Linked DNA regions of Homo sapiens: region 1 is linked to region 2. Evidence: fine-mapped expression QTL. A gene starts in region 2. The other region holds a variant in brackets. All regions are shown on one strand. Distances are from middle to middle. Region 1 has its middle 58 kb from the start of SNHG20. Region 2 holds the start of AANAT (aralkylamine N-acetyltransferase).

Region 1 (8,395 bases), 560 kb before region 2:
ACAGGGCTTGGTCTGTTTGGCAGCCCACGGCAAAGCCATCTCTAAGTGGCACCCCACCCCCCAGCCCACCTGGTCCTCATGATGGAGAAATCCAGGTCACAGCTGGGCAGGCTCCAGAGAGGAGTGAGGCCGCTTGGCACTAAAGAGAATGGAGGGTGGAGGAGGAGGCAGTGGGTGGCTGAGTGGAGGAGAGAAGCCCACGTGCACAGGTGCAACAGTGGAAAAAGACCCCCGGGCCGGGTGTGACGGTGCATCCCTCGGGAGGCTAAGGTGGGAGGATCTCTAGCCCAGGAAGTCGAGGCTGCAGTGAGCCATGATTGCACCACTGCACTCCAGCCTGCGTGACAGATCGAAACCCCCATCTCTTAAAAAAAAAAGCCAATTAAAACTAAAGACAACCCCTGGCTGAGAATGCTGTAGAGGCAATTCAAGGACAGAGCTCGTGCTGAACAAAACATGCCTTTAAATTTTTAACTCCTATAACCGATTTCTCTTGTTTATCATATTGTTTGAGGCTCCGTGAAGGCCCAGGCAGGAAAATAGAAAGCACTTCAGGTACTGAACCCAGAGAGAATTTAATGGAGAGAGTGTTGGGAAAGCCAGCCTTGGGCGTGCAGTCTCTCAACCCGAATAGTCACATGAGAATGGGCCGTGGGCCCAGATCACTTCCTTACAAATAAAGAAAGAGCTCTCCCAGCCCGTGCTGGGCATCTGTCTTCGGGGATACCTTTCCCTGTGCTTGACTTGATGGGCCTTCTGTTCTGCCTGAGTGTGTGCATCCTGTGGCACCCACCACCCACTGCTCTATCTGTTCCCAGTGGGGGGTTGGGGTGAGAGGGGTGCACGCAGACCCTCTCCCTGGAGTGCTAGGCCACGTGGAGCGGCGGGGGCTGACACTCACTATTGCAGCTGATCATGCTCCACCTGCTGTCTAGGTGAGTCTAGCATGGTTCCATCCTGTGCCTGTGTGAGTCGTGTCTTTCTTGGCACCGTCCTCACCCACAAGCCACGCAGGGGGCTGACGTCCCAGGACTGCTGCTCCTGGTGGCAGGACCCGCCACTCAATAGGGCTCTTCCACTGAAGGTGGTAACAGGTATCACTTGCTTAACACTTAATGATGGCATGGATGATAAGGGGGCAGGGATGGGAAGCTGCTACCACGCTGAGGGATGGAGGGACAAAGGGAAGATGTGGAGCTACCAGGACCTCAGGACTGGGGTCACTTGTGGAGAGCCATGGGTGGGGTCACAGCCATGCAGAGATGTAGCCCAAGACAGAGAGGGAGAGCATGAACTCCCCAGAATGCCTACCCTCCAGTCTCCCACCAGTGCCTCCCATGGACTGGAGGCAGTCTGGGCCTAGAAATAGCCTGCAGAGGTCAGACCCGACCACAGCTGCAGCAGGTGAGGAGGGACCGGGGCAAACAGGCCCACCATGAGCCAGCGAATGCACACACTGCATCCTCAGAATAACACACAAAATGTGCTGAAATGGTTTCCGACGGCTGCTGTCACTACTTACACAAACATGGTGGCTTAGACAACAGTTATTCTCTTACAGTTCTGGAGATCAGAAATCCAAAATCACTTTCACTGACTGGGTGCAGTGGCTCACGCCTGTAATCCCAGCACTTTAGGAGGCCGAGGTGGGTGGATCACTTGAGGCCAGGAGTTCAAGATCAGCCTGAGCAACACGGTGAAACCTTGTCTCTACTGAAAAAAAAATTAGCTGGGTGTGGTGGTGTGCACCTGTAGTCCCAGCTACTTGAGAGGCTGAGGTGGGAGGGTCACTTGAGCCCAGGACTTTGAGATCAGCCTAGGCAATATAGCGAAACCCCATCTCTACAAATAATACACACAAAAAAATAGCTGGGCTTGGTGGTGTACGCCTGTTGTCCCAGCTACTCAGGAGGCTGAGGCAGGAGGATCACTTGAGCCCAGGAGGTGGAGGCTGCAGTGAGCTAACATTTTATTTTTGAGACCCTTTCCCCAAATAAAAATAAAAAACCACGTTCACGGTGCTGGAATCCAGGTGCTGGTAGGCGGCACTCTCTGCGGAGGCTCTAGGGGAGGCTCTTGTTTCCTTGCTTTTCCAGCTTCTAGAGCTACTACGTTCCTTGCAGTCCTTGGCTTGTGGCCTCTTCCTTCATCTTGAAAGCCAGCAGTGTAGCATCTTCAAATCTTTCTGCCAAAGTCCTCACATCACCTTCTTTTACCCTTGTAGTCAAATCTCCCTCTGACTCCCTCTCCTAAGGACACTTGTGATTACATTTGGGGCCCATCCGGGAAAGCCAGGATCCTCTCTCCACCTCAAGCCTTAATCACTTCTGCCCAGGCCCTCTTGCCATAGAAGGTTACATTCACAGCTTCCAGGGATTAGGAGCTGGATATCTTTGGGGGCCATAATTCAGGCTTTCATGGGTACAAAAGTGGACACTTCCTGTAATAGTTAGCTATTGCTGTGTAACAAATTACCCCAACATGTGGCAGCCCAAAACAACAAACTTTTTAAATCTCATGCAGTTTTCATGGGTCAGTTATTTCAGAGTAGCTTAGCTGTGTGGTTATATCTCAAGAGGTTGCAATCAAGCTGTCAGCCAGGGCTGACATCACCAGAAGGTTTGACCAGGCTGGAGAATCCACTCCAAGATGGCTCCTCACACAGCTGTTGCAGGAGGCTTCAGGTCCTCACCACGTGGGCTTCTCCATGAGGCCACTTGAGGTTCCTCACAGCATGGCTGCTGGCTGGCTTCCCCCAGACTGAGAATTCTGAGAAGGAAAGCTGGCAAGAAGCCACGGTACCTTTTATGACCTTGCCTGCATTAATTTGTTAGGGCTGCCAAAGTACCACAGGCTGGGTGGCTTACACAACAGAAATGTCTTTTTTCACGATCCTGGAGGCGAGACATTGCAATCAAGGTATTAGCAAGATTGGTTTCATCTGAGGCCTCTTTCAGAAGGCTTTCTTTCTTTCTTTCTTTCTTTCTTTCTTTCTTTCTTTCTTTCTTTCTTTCTCTCTTTCCTTTCTTTCTTTCTCTCTTTCTTTCTTTTTCTTGTTTCTTTTCTTTTTTTTTTTTTGAGGCAAAGTCTCACTCTGTCACTTAGGCTGGAGTGCAGTGGCATGATCTCAGCTCACTGAAACCTCCACCTCCAGGATTCAAGCAATTCTCCTGCCTCAGCTTCCTGAGAAGCTGGGACTACAGGTGTGTGCCACCACGCCTGGCTAAGTTTTGTAATTTTAGTAGAGATGGGGTTTCACCATGTTGGCCAGGCTGGTCTCGAACTTCTGACCTCAGGTGATCCATCTGCCTTGGCCTCCCAAAGTGCTGAGATTACAGGGGTGAGCCACCATGCCTGGCTTCAGAAGGCTTTCTGAGTCTCCCTTAGAGATGGCTGTCTTCTCCCTGTATCCTCACGTGGTCTTCCCTCTGTCTATGCTCGTGTCCTAATTTCCTCTTCTTATGAGGACATCAGTTAGATTGGATTAGGGCCCACCCATGTGACATTATATTACCATAATTATCACTTTAAAGGTCTTATCTCCAAATACAGTCACATTCTGAAGTACTGGGGGTTAGGACTTCAATATATGAATTTGTCAGGGGACATTATTTAGCTCCTAACAGCCTCAGAAGTGACATACTTCTGCCATATTCTCTGGGTCAGATAGACCAATCCTACTACAATAACGGAGCGACTACTTCAGGATGTGGACGCCAGGAGGTGGGCTCAATGGGGTCTTCTTGGAGGCCTCTCCCTTTATGCCCAGAAGAATTTTTTTTTTTTAAATGGAGTCTCACTCTGTCACCCAGGCTGGAGTGCAGTGGTGTGACCTCAGCTCACCACAACCTCTGCTTCCTGGGTTCAAGCGATTCTCCTGTCTCAGCCTCCCGAGTAGCTGGGATTACAGGCATGCGCCATGATGCCTGGCTAATTTTTGTATTTTTAGTAGAGATGGGGTTTCGTCATGTTGGCCAGGCTGGTCTCGAACTCTTAACCTCAG[G/C]TGATCTGCCCGCCTCGGCCTCCCAAAGTGCTGGGATTACAGACGTGAGCCACCACACCCGCCAAGAGAAATTCTTACTAGTTCTTGCATATATTTCTAGGGCTACTGTATATATGCTCAGCCACATATGTACAAGAAGTGCACATGTATACAAGTGAGGTGTATAAACATGGTGCCCTGTACCTTGCTTTCTTCACTTAGTAAGCCCACAAGGAGCGGCCTCATTCTTTTTTGGATTCCACTGTATGAATTGCTGCCATTTAATTAACTGATCCCCTGAATATTTATGGGTTTTTTTTTTTTCGAGCTGGAGTTTTGCTCTTGTTGCCCAGGCTGGGGTGCAATGGCACAATATCAGCTCACCGCAACCTCTGCCTCCCAGGTTCAAGTGATTCTCCTGCCTCAGCCTCCCAAGTAGCTGGGATTACAGACACTCACCACCACGCCCGGCTAATTTTTGTATTTTTAGTAGAGACAAGGTTTCACCATGTTGGCCAGGCTGGTCTCGAACTCCTGACCTCAGGTGGTCCACCTGCCCTCTGCCTCCCAAAGTGCTGGGATTACAGGCTTGAGCCATGGCGCATGGCGAAGTTTATATTCTTTGCAATATTTTGCCATTGCACATAATGATGCAACAAATATTCATCTACTGGTATCATTCCTCGTGTGTGCTAGTATATTTGCAGGGTAAGTACCTGCTGTGAAATTGCTGGGTCAAAGGCTGTAAGTCTTTAACAGATGCTGTCAGATGGTGAAGTTGGTCTCTTGAAGGTTTTTCCAGTTTACACTCTTGTGAACATGGTGCAGACAGCCTGTCCCTGCAGTCTCACTGACAGCATGTGGTCATCCTTTCACTCTCGCTGATCTGCTGAAGTGGTATCTTGGCCGGGCATGGTGGCTCACACCTGTAATCCCAGCACTTTGGGAGGCTGAGGCAGGAGAATCACTTGAGCCCAGGAGTTCGAGGCCAGCTTGGGCAACATGGTGAAACCCTGTCTCTACAAAAAATACAAAAATGAGCTGAGTGTGGTGGCATGAGCCTGTAGTCCCAGCTACTCGGGAGGCTGAGGCGGGATGATCGTTTGAGCCCGGGAGGTAGAGGCTGCAGTGAGCCGTGATTGCGCCGCTGCACTCCAGCCTGGGTGACAGGGTGAGCTCCTGTCTAAAACAACAACAGAAACAACATCTCGGTGTAGCTTTAAAAAAAATTATTGAGGTAAAATTTGCATAACATAAATTTAACCATCTTTAAGGTGAACAATTCAGTGGCATTAAGTACATTCACAGTGTTGTGCAATCACCTCTATTTAGTTCTAAAACATTTTCGTCACCCCAAAATAAAGTCCCCTACTCTGCCTGTAGTCCCAGCACTTTGGGAGGCAGAGACAGGAGGATCGCTTGAGCCCAGGAGTTTGAGACCAGCCTGGCAATATAGGGAGACCCCGTCTCTATGAAAAATGAAAAAAATTAGCCAGGCATAGTGGTGCATACCTGTAGACCAAGCTACTTGGAAGGCTGAGGCAGAACGATTGCTTGAGCCTGGGAGGTCGAGGCCTCAGTGAGCCATGATTGTGCCACTGCGCTCCAGCCTGGGTGACAGAGTGAGATCCTGCCTCAAAAACAAAAAAACAAGCAAACAAAAAAGAGTCCACACCCGTGAAGCATCATTGCATTTCGCCCTCTGCCAGCCCTTGGCAACCACCCATCTGCTTTCTGTCTCTGTGGACTTGCCTATTCTGGACATTTCATGGAAATCATGCAATATGCGGCTCTTTGTAAATGGCTTCCTTCACTGAGCACCATGTTTCAGAGCTTCACCTGTTTGTGGTGTGTGTTCCTTCCCTTTCATGGCTGGGTAATATTCCACTGTATGACACACGGCATTGTGTTTATCTGGTCATCTGCTGATAAACCCTAAGACCACTTCCATTTCAGTGTGGTTTCAATTTGCATTTCCCTGATTATGAGGGAGGTTGAGTTTCTTTTCATGTGTCAGGTGCTCTTTAGGGCCCTTTCCAAACCAGAGGCAGGATGAGCTGGAGACAGGATGAAGCTCAGGGATGCACTGCAGCTGCACTGAAGTGCCTCATCCCCATCCTTCGGGTTCCAGGGCCTTTGGGTGTCAGAGGAGAGTGGCCTCCCTCAGGAACAGCCAAGTCTGGGCACCTGAGCCTGGTGGAGCCAGGAGGGCCCTGGAGTTAATGCAAAGAGTCACCACTTAGTGAGCATTTCCTGTGCGCCTGGCATTCTTGTTGGCACTGCATATATTATTATTAACTCCTTGAACCCTTGCAGCAACTCCAGGCTGATTTATTACACCCTTTACAGTTGAGGAAACTGATACCCGAGATGTTGTGTAACGTGCTCTTAAACGGGGGGGGCACAGCAGGTACAGAAGTCATCAGCAGGACTGTTGGATGTAGGCGCCAAGGTTGTGCCCAACACACCCTGTGAGGCCTCCCTCTCAAAAGGCTGCCCCTGGCAACTTACCCTGCCCTCCTCTTCCTCAGCACCTTCCCCTCCAGGCCCCTAGAGAGGAACAGGATTTGTCCTCTTCATACTTCTTGTATCGGCAATCTATTGCTGCTTAACAAAGTGCTCGAAAACTTAATAGCTTCAATCAACACTTGTTATCTCAGTTTCTGAAGGTCAGGAATGCGGGAGTGGCTCAGCTGGGGTAGGTTCTGGCTCAAGTTCCCTCTCTGTAGTCAAATTGTCAGGCTGTAGTCAAATTGTCAGCCAAGGCTACAGTCATCTGAAGGTTTGACTGGGACTGGAGAAACCATTTCCAAGATGGCTCCCTCACATAGCTGTGGACTGGAGGCCTCATTTCCTCTCTGGCTGCTGGCAGAAGGTCTTAGTTCCTTGCCATGTGGATCTCTCTCAAAGGCTAATTGAGTGTCCTCAGAACATGGTGGCTGACTTCCCCAAAGGGAGTGATCTAAGAGGAAGTTGCAGTGCCTTTTATGACCTAGTCTCAGGAGTGACAGATGATAATTTCTGCCATATTCTATTTGTTAGAAGTTCCTAAGTTCAGCCCATTCTCAAAAGGAGGGAATTAAACTTCCTTGAAGTGAGGAGTGTAGAAGCATTTGTGGACATACATTTGCTCCTTTTTCTTGTTCTGGGTCCTGGATCTCTTTGGCCAAGTGTCTGGGGTTTGGTTATGTGCAGAGGTGATGACCATGGCTTGGGGGCGGTGGGTTGGGGTATCAGGCCCTGTGATGGGGTAAGACAGGTGAGCATTGCCTCACTTATCTGGAATTGGGAGTGGTTGGCACATCTTTGTTCATCTCAACACATCCTCTTATTTTGTTTTCTATTAAAGGAAGCAGAAGTCCTTGACAGACAGATGGAGGCCACTCCCTCTCCCAACCCCCTCCTCTGAAGATGGCTGGGACAGAGTCACAGGAAAGGGTGGGGGAGAATTAATAGTGTAAACCTGGGGTTTTGAACCTGGCATGCAAGATCCCCAAGGGATTTTTGGATAGAATTTAGGGAGGGCATGCATTTGGATAGAAGAAAAAAATAATTCTCTGTTTTCACAAACCTCTGTCTCATATTTACCATTTCCTCTAATTATAAATGCAGTTGACAAAACACAATAGTATTAGACACACTCTTGACTTTCTCACCAAAAAACAATTACAGATTTTTTCATTCCATCACAGCTGTTGCAGAAATCTTGCAATATCATTTACGCTGATCACTATTACAAAATGACTGTGGTTATAAGGCCATCCACTGGGTTGTACGATTTATGCTTTAGTAAACAAGTACATCTTTCTACATCACAAACTGGGCTTTTAAATATTTTAATAACTGTATTTCCATATGGTTGGCTTTCTTGTGATTGTATGAATTTGTTCTATGCATTTAAAAACTAAGAAGGGACCAAAGACGTCACTAGGCTGCAAAGAGGTCTGGGGTAAGAAAAGATTGAAAACTTCCTGGGTGGAGGAAGAGTTTGGGGAGATACTGAAACCAATGAAAATCAGGAGATTTGACCATTAAGAGCTGCTGGTGACCTTTGACAAGGCAAAGGTGACAGAGGAAATGAAGTGATGGATTTAGGAAACCACTGCCCAGTAAAGGAAGGTGAGGCTTCACACTCACGGAAGGTTTCCTGCTTCATGGTCACTGGTTGTAAATGGTTCATTCCTGCTATCCCTCATTGTGGGTCCAGGAGTCCACCCACCCACCACCACCCCCTCTCCCTCTCACCTTCCACCCCCCACTGCTTGATTTCCTCACTCCATTCTCCAAACTTGTTACACCCATTTGCCCACCATTTTCTTTCCCAGCAATGACCTTTTCCCCTTGCCTACCAGGAGACTTGTACTCATCCTTTAAAACATCACTCTCATAGGGCTGATGATGACCCTGTGCTCA
Region 2 (8,236 bases):
TACGGACGATGTCTCATGGATTAAATAATATTCTTTATGGCAGTACATTGTCTTTAACGGAGACCTCAGGTAGCATGAAACTGGGATTTGGGGGTGAGGTGAGGGGTCAGCCATCAGCTGCTCAGAGACAGCAGTTTGGCCCGGTGGACAGCAGAAAACTTGTGGAGCATCTTGGGGAATTAGTTGGGCCAGAAAGCAGATTGGGGTCACGTGGGAGACCCCAGGGGTCCACTTGGGAGGGCTGGGTTGAATCCTTAGGGCCCTGGGGTTCCCACCCCTACCTGTTCTGCCTTGGCTCCAGAGCAGGGAAGGGGCTGCCTGGGCCCAGGGTGGCCTGCCCTGATGGGGATGGCACTGAGGGGACCTGTCACCCCACCCGGGGACGAGTCCACTCCCTGTGCCAGTGCCTCACCCACCACACTGAGGATGGCCAGTGAGGCACCGGGTATGACCACTTGATTACCATGGGCAGAGGGCCCTGCACCAGCTTCCCTGCCCCAAGCTGCCTCTACAGCACAGGCCTCCCGCCTCTGCCCCATCCTGCTGCTCCCCACTCTCCCCCACCCTAGGGGCTAAGGGTGGGAAGCGGCATCCATGAGGCTGGGGAGAATAAGGACACCCCCCCCCCCCACCGAGCAATGGGCTACTGTGAGGATGCCGCCTTGGTGCCTTTGCCCACCTGCCAGGAGGAAAGGAGCCAGGAACCCCACAGCACCTCCCATTGTCCCCGCTTACCAACCCAGCCCGGTCTCAGGTACAGAGTTCAGAACACAGGAGGTCCAGAGGCCTCGTGGGGACAGACAAGACACACCACTCCAGCTCAGGCCGTGAGAAGCCACCTTATCTCCTCTTTATTTAGCCCTGCTCTCTCCACTCTCTGGAAACTGCTGTCTCCATGCTCAGCTGAGCTAAGAGGAGCCCAGGGCAGAGACGGGGATCATGTTGGCAGCCAGGTGGGCAGCCCAGTTCAGCAGCCGCTGTTCCTGCGCAGGAAGGGGTGGCCCCGCAGGGAGCAGTGGAGCTCCATGAAGGTGAGGGAGCCCACGGTGATGGCGCAGGGGCCCACGGCGTGGAAGCTGAACCTCTCATAGAAGGGTACCAGCGCGTCCTCGCACATGAGCGCGGCCCGGCGCACGGCCGGCTGGCTGCCCAGGTGGTGCAGGTAGCGCCACAGCAGGATGGGGCCCCTGCCCTGCTGCCGGAAGGCGCGGTGCACGGCCAGCACATGCAGGTGGGCTATGTGGCCCCCAGACCTGTGCAGCGTCAGTGACTCCTGGGAGCGAGCAAGGGATGAGATCCCAGGTCACTTCTGCTGACACGTGCTCCCCCCCAACCACCAACCCAGGCAGGGAGCAGGTGTCCCCTGGGTGCCTGTGGTCAGGGCACCCACCCCAGCAAAGGAGGGCCCCAAATTGGGAGCCATACCCCCAACCCCATGGAGAAAACTTGAAGACCCAGAAGGTCTTGCTCTGGGAGGGGCCTGTGGCCTGTACTCATCTCTCCAGTTCTGGAGGAAGAAATCCCAGCCCCTGGGCTCCCCTCCCCGCCATCTGGCTGACCTCTGTCTTCAGAGGCCTCCCTGGAGCTGGGCGTCGCAGCCCTGTCCTCACCTGCATGAGTCTCTCCTTGTCCCAGAGCGAGCCGATGATGAAGGCCACAAGGCAGCCCTCCTCGAACCAGCCCAGGGACAGCTCTGGACATAGGGTCAGGAAGTGCCGGATCTCATCCAGGTACAGGGGGCAGACGCCCAAGACGGAGATGAAGGCTGTGGCAGGAGGCTCAGGTGGGTGACTGGTAGTCGCTGTGCCTCGCGTCCACTGTCTGCTGCACCCCGAGTGTCCACTCAGATGCCCCGTTCCCCACAGGAAAATGGGGGTTAGGGCTGCTGTTTCCCCCACTTTCTTGAGCGCACACATGGTCTGATACTCTGGGACCCAGCCTCCAAGGACAGGAGACTAAGGGTCTCCTCCCCACAGGATAACTGGACCAGAGTGGAGCATCCCTCTGACCCTGTGCGGGGCCACTCACCTTCACGCTCGATCTCAAAGGCGCTGACAGCGTCCTCCGGGGTGAGGCAGCGAAACTCACTGGCAGGGAGTGTGTGGCGCCGCTGACAGCTCGGGGACTCGGGGATCCCAGGTGGCAGACGTGGGGCCTCAGGTTTCAGGGGGTGGGTGCTCTGCGTGGACATTCTGGCCACTGGTGCCTCCTTGGGGCGCCCCAGCTTTGGAAGTGTCCTCCTAAGCCAAGGAGGGCCTCCCAGCACCTGTTGGAGAACAGCAAGGGACAGGGGTCTCATCCTCATCTCCAGGGAGGCAGGCCCCAGAGTATGTATCTGGCCTCTTTTGTAGCAGGAACTGGGGTGGAGACAGCCCCTAAATCAATGGGCACATTCCCCAGGTACCTGGTCCCCGAGGCTGTTACCAGGCATTGCAAACATTGGCACTGTCTCCCCACCTTTCCCTCTCAGCCAGAAGGATCCCTGGAGGTTTGCCACCTTGCAGACCTGCAGACATTGGTCTCAGGGTGCCGTCTGGGTGCTTCTGAGCCCCAGAGATGGTGGCAGGGATGAGCAGGGCTCAGTGGAGCCTGGGGCACCCCAACCCTGCTGCCCACGGTGGGAGGGGAGGCAGGACTCGTGACCCTCCACTGACCACGTCTAATGCAACTGTGCAGTGGGTGGGCGCCCGGTTCCCCCACACCACCATTCATGTGGTTTATCTTACCTCCCCAGAGGGAGGCTTCTGGTCCTTTGGGTGCAAGATCCTGTGGCAGAGAGCTTTTTAGGTAGCCTCAGCCCTTGGTCCTAGAGAGCCCCTTAATCAAAGTGGGCCCTTAGGGAGCCTCTACTTCTATCCAGATGGCCTCAGACTGGGCCACACACATGCAGGATTTGTGGTGGGGGGTGGGGAGGTTAGAGGGAGCCGGGGGCTGCAGAGGGCCTGGGGAATGGGGAGGAGCAGGCAAGGAGAGTGCATAGGACACCCCCTGCCCCACACATCCAGCTCATCAGACATTCCCCTCTGGGCACTCTTGTCTCCCAAGACACCCTGCAGATTTGCAGTTCTTAGAGGAGGCCATCCCTCCCTCCACCTTCCAAGACACTTAATAAACTCCATGGCTTCCATGTTTCCCTCCATGTCTAGAAGCTCCAAGTAGAGAAGCTCCTGTTCCTAAAGGCTGAGAGCCAGGAGTGGGGGTCCCACCTACCTGGACTGTGGAGAGGATACCCAGTGTTCCCTCCACAAAGCCGCTAGCCCTGGGGGCCTGTCCGCAGGCACGGGAACCAGTAAAATCCGGGACTCCGGGCTGCAAGGCTGTAGTAGCAGATGTTCCCCGGGCAGCCTGTGGTGCTGTTAGAGGTTTGTAATCCCCCCACCCCACCTCTCGAGCTATCCCAGGCAGGATGACGCCAGCAGGGCTCTGGCAGCCTCGGCCCCTGCCTTGCTGAAGGGAAACGTCAGCTCTGGTGCCCTGGGCACAGAAGGGATTACCAGAGGCTGACTGAGGCCCCAGGGTTTGGGGAAGAGAGCGTGGGGCTAAGCCTCAGGGGTCCATCTCTAATCCCTGCTCTGTCACCGACTGGCTGGGCACCAGCGATTCTCCCTCTGTCCCTCGGAGTCTTGGACAAGCCCACCTCTTATGTGGGGGGAGGGGGTGGGAATTCAAGCTACCAATTTGTGCACTTTAAGTACGTTCTACTTCAAGTTTATTTAAATATTTAATTTAATTAAATATTTAAATATTCAGGAGGTTGCCCTACCAAACATCTCAACTACAAAGCTCTCTGCTATTGACCTTGGCTCCACCCATTCCCAGGGCTGCCCAGGCCTTGGCACTTGGTGCTGGCATTCCCTCGGGATGCAGGCCCCTCTCCCTGTTGGCTCTGACTACCCCCTGCCCTCCAGCTCACACCCCATCCTGCACCCCTTAGCTCTTCTCTCGCCAGCACCTGCCTCTCCGCCCCACCCAGCAGTGCAGATCCTGTGTCCATCTCGGGCTCCTGGGGGTCCTGGAGGTTGGATTTCACAGGTGCACTCTTTTGACCCCCTGCAGAGGAAGCTTCTGCTCCTACCCACACAGCTTGGGACGGACCTCTGAGGGTCCTTCCTGTCCTGGCAGCCTGTGAGTGCCACTGCTTACAGCACTTGCTATGTGCCGGGCCCTGGATACGCGTCTCCTTTAATCCACACGGAAGCCCGGCCAAATGAGTATTAACCACGTTATAGAGAAGGAAACCGAGGCACAGACAGGTTCAGTAACCTGCTCAGAGCCATCCAACAAGTGAAGGGGGAGGGGCAAAGCCGGGTCAGCCTCCTGACATGCACTGCCACGGCTGCACTGGTGGGACCCACTCATCTCACAATGAGACTCCTGTTTCCTGTCTTCATGATTCTCCTGCTGGTTTTCAGTGTCCTCACAGGTGCACTCTTTCGACCCCCCCGCAGAGGAAGCTCCTGTTCCTACCCATACGGTTTGGGACACAGCCCCTGACCGTGGAGTGACCCCGTCCCGATGCCCCCGCCCACCCACCACATGCATTCCTCCTGTCTCTGGGTCCCCTTCTCCCAGGGCCCCTCTGCACTCTGAGGCCCACCTGCCTGCTAGAAGGGACCCTCAACAGACCTCTCAGGACCGACCAGAGACCTCCTTGGGCTTGGTTGGTGGGGTGGTCATGTCCAAGACCTCAGCTGGGCATCCCCACCTTCAACCTCCAGGGTCCCCCAAAAGGCCTCTTCTGTCCCTTCATAGACTGTGGCTCCATGGCACCCCCTGGTGGCCAATCCTAATCAGTCACTTGGCGATGCCTGAGAAGAGCCTGCTGTTCAATCGGCCTCTCTCTTTGCTGACTTCCACATGGCCCTGTTCTTTCCGGACAACACCCTAGAGGTCTAGAACCTCAGGGAACAAGATGAGGCAGTAAGCCAGGCACAGTGGCTCACCGCTGTAATCCCAGCACTTTGGGAGACAGAGACGGGAGGATGGCTTGAGCCGGAGAGGTCGAGGCTGTAGTGACTCGCCACTGCACTCCAGCCTGGGCGACAGAGCGAGACCCTGTCTCAAAAAAATACAAATAAAAATAAATTTTTTTTAAAGATGAGGCGGTATGTTAAACATGGTGAAACTGGGAAGTTCAAACCCTTGTGGGACAGGAGAGGAGACAGGGGAGGGCAGGGTGATCGCTGGGACCTTTGTCCTGGTCAACAGGAAGAAAACCACATACCACCACCAATGAGAAGGAAAATAAGGAGGGTGAGGGGCCCAACAGGGTGATGGGTACAGAGAGAAGGAGATCCCTGGGGCTGGGCATAGTGGCTCACACCTGTAATCCCAGCACTTTGGGAGGCCAAGGCAGGAGGATCACTTGAGCCCAGGAGTTTGAGACCAGCCTGGGCAACATAGCAAGACCCCTGTCTCTACAAAAAATTTAAAAATCAGCCAAGCATGGTGGCACACACCTGTAGCCCCAGCTACTTGGGAGGCTGAGGTGGGAAGATCACTTGAGCCTAGGTGGTTCAGGCTGCAGTGATGAGCCACTGCACTCCAGCCTGGGTAACTGAGCAAGATGTTGTCTCAAAAAAAAAAAAAAAAATCCTGACCTCAGGTGGGCTCTAAAAAAGAAGCACCTCCGAGATCATCCTCACGCCAGGGACACCGATTGCACTGTTTATCAGATGCCCAGTCTTGTCCTGCTATTGCAGTTAAGAGTGCTGGCAACGCCTCTGGTGACTGCCTCTCAGGTGGATCTTGGGGATGGGGGGGAGAATGTGTCCTTTGCCCCCCAAGTCGTACCTGTTCAGTCACTCTAGACAGCTGATAAACACCTAACCTGATGGGCAAGGCCGGGCACGGTGGCTCATGCCTGTAATCCCAGCACTTTGGGAGGCTGAGGCGGGTGGATCACCTGAGGTCAAGAGTTCGAGACCAGCCTGGCCAATATGGTGAAACTCCGTCTCTACTAAAAATACAAAAAATCAGCCAGGTGTGGTGGTGGGCGCTTGTAATCCCAGCCACTTGGGAGGCTGAGGCAGGAGAATTGCTTGAACCCAGGAAGCAGAGGTTGCAGTGAGCCAAGATCGTGCCATTGTACTCCAGCCTGGGCAAAAAGAGTGAAACTGCTATCTCAAAAAAAAAAAATATATAGATACAGACAGGGAGAAGCTGGCATCTGTATGTTTCCCAGGGGTGCTGTAACAGATGATACACAAACTGGATGACTGTAAACCACAGAAATGGCTTGACGTCGTGGCTCATGCCTGTAATCCCAGCACTTTGGGAGGCCGAGGCTCTTTGTTCCCAGCCTCTCCCTCCAGCAGCAGCTCCCTTGAAAGTCCTGTATCCACAACTCACCCACCGCGACTCCCTGCCCAGTGTGTACCATGCCACCCTGCCTCACCCATGATGGCTCCCCTCAGGGGTCCCCCTGTCTCTCCACCCAGCCTGGCCTCTTTCGATCTCCCAGACAGATTTACACATTTCAAATGCCAGATGGGGTTCAGTTTTCTCCCAAAAGGCTCTTCGGTCCCATGAAAATCATGGTCTGTGACTGGGCTTCCACTTCAAGACTCCAGAATATTCTTTTTTTTTTTTTTTTTAAGACAGAGTCTTGCTCTGTGGCCCAGGCTGGAGTGCAATGGCACAATCTCGGCTCACTGCAACCTCCGCCTCCCAGGTTCAAGCAATTCTCCTGCCTTAGCCTCCCAAGTAGCTGGGATTACGGGCGCACACCACCATGCCTGGCTAATTTTTTTTATTTTTCCTAGAGATGGGCTTTCGCCATATTGGTCAGGCTGGTCTCAAACTCCTGAACTCAGGTGATCCACCTGCCTCAGCCTCCTAAAGTGTTGGGATTACAGGCGTGAGCCACCGCACCCAGGCAGGACTCCAGAATATTCTATAGCAGTTTGGAGAGGGGTTGTCCAGGGCACACAGAGAACTGCCAGGGACCATGCTACCTAACTCCCCACCTGCCCTGGTAGAGCCTCACCTCTGACCCATCAGAGCCCCCATCCCACTCCTAATCAGATGTGGTGAGGATGATGACGACAGTTATTGAGCGGATAACTGATATCATGACAGTAAAAAAGGTTCTGAGAGGATGTGTATCACCACACGAAAGCTGAGAACCAAGCTTTTGGGATGTCCACTGTTAGCAGGGAAAGGAGTTATTAACAGGAACACAGGTGAAGCCACAAGAAGGGAAGAACCCAGGGGAGAATGTCCAAGAAATGGGGCAGATAGAGCCTGAAATGCCACAAAGAATGGAGAACAGATCTCAGATTCTGCCAACAGGGAGGCTCCGATGACCTTTAAGAATCCTTCCAGAAAAGGCCGGGCACGGTGGCTCACACCTGTAATCCCAGCACTTTAGGAGGCTGAGGTGGGTGGATAGCTCGAGGTCAGGAGTTCAATAGCAGTCTGGCTAACATGGTGAAACCCCGTCTCTACTAAAAATACAAAAATGATCTGGGCGTGGTGGTGGGTGCCTGTAATCCCAGCTACTCGGGAGGCTGAGGCAGGAGAATTGCTGGAACCCAGGAGGCAGAGGTTGCAGTGAGCCAAGATTGCACCACTGCACTCCAACTTGGGCCACAGAGCAAGACTGTATCTCAAAAAAAAAAAAAAAAGGAATCCTTCCAGAAGGGAGAAATGGGTGGAGAGGCCAGATGCAGAGGAATGGCCTTAATGGTGACAGTGAGAGGTGGAGTGCAGAGGCCGTTGATTAAAGGCACACTGACTCGCTGCCACGGCCGGGGGTTGGAGAAAACCTCCCCACGGCCCCCACCCCATCCCGGGCACCGAGCCTGCTGCAGCTGCTGATACCCCCGGAGAGCCTGGTGCAGGGGCAGTGAGCATCCCCACCGGGCCCAGTGCAGAAGCCCTGGACCTGGAATCTGGGAGCTTCCCGCATGGAGACACACCCCCTCCCCTCCGTGTGTCAGCTGCCCAGTTTCACACCCAGACTGAAGGGAGCCCATTTGGGGCAGACCAAGGAGTGGGCCCCATGGCCATGTCCCAGGGACACCTTGACGATGCCTCTGAGATACCGGTTTTCCATGCAGAGCAGTTGAGAGGCCCGGCGTGCAGGAAGCATAGCCCTCTCTTCAGGCTCTTGTGCAATGGCTGCATTTTTTTGGTGGTTTCGATGGTCACTTTCTCTCTCAACTCCTCCCCTGCACTAAAGGTCTGCCCCACAGACCTGGCACTGAGCACATCTCGCGTTATCGTCTTTACC

The links.
Region 1: its variant is fine-mapped to the expression of AANAT in spinal cord (GTEx, PIP 0.95).

The regions. Positions count from the first base shown.
Region 1 is chr17:77,025,995-77,034,389 of GRCh38, reverse strand. No RefSeq gene overlaps it. Among named protein-coding and RNA genes, the nearest start is that of SNHG20, 58 kb to the left of the region's middle. The variant G/C (reference allele first, on the strand shown) is at 4,004.
Region 2 is chr17:76,462,702-76,470,937 of GRCh38, reverse strand. It overlaps AANAT (aralkylamine N-acetyltransferase), which reads right to left and starts at 3,335. Exons shown (of 4, transcript NM_001088.3): 1 at 3,211-3,335; 2 at 2,029-2,266; 3 at 1,611-1,765; 4 at 821-1,273. The coding sequence starts at 2,191. The coding sequence ends at 968. It overlaps RHBDF2 (rhomboid 5 homolog 2), which reads left to right. Exons shown (of 19, transcript NM_001005498.4): 19 at 1-42.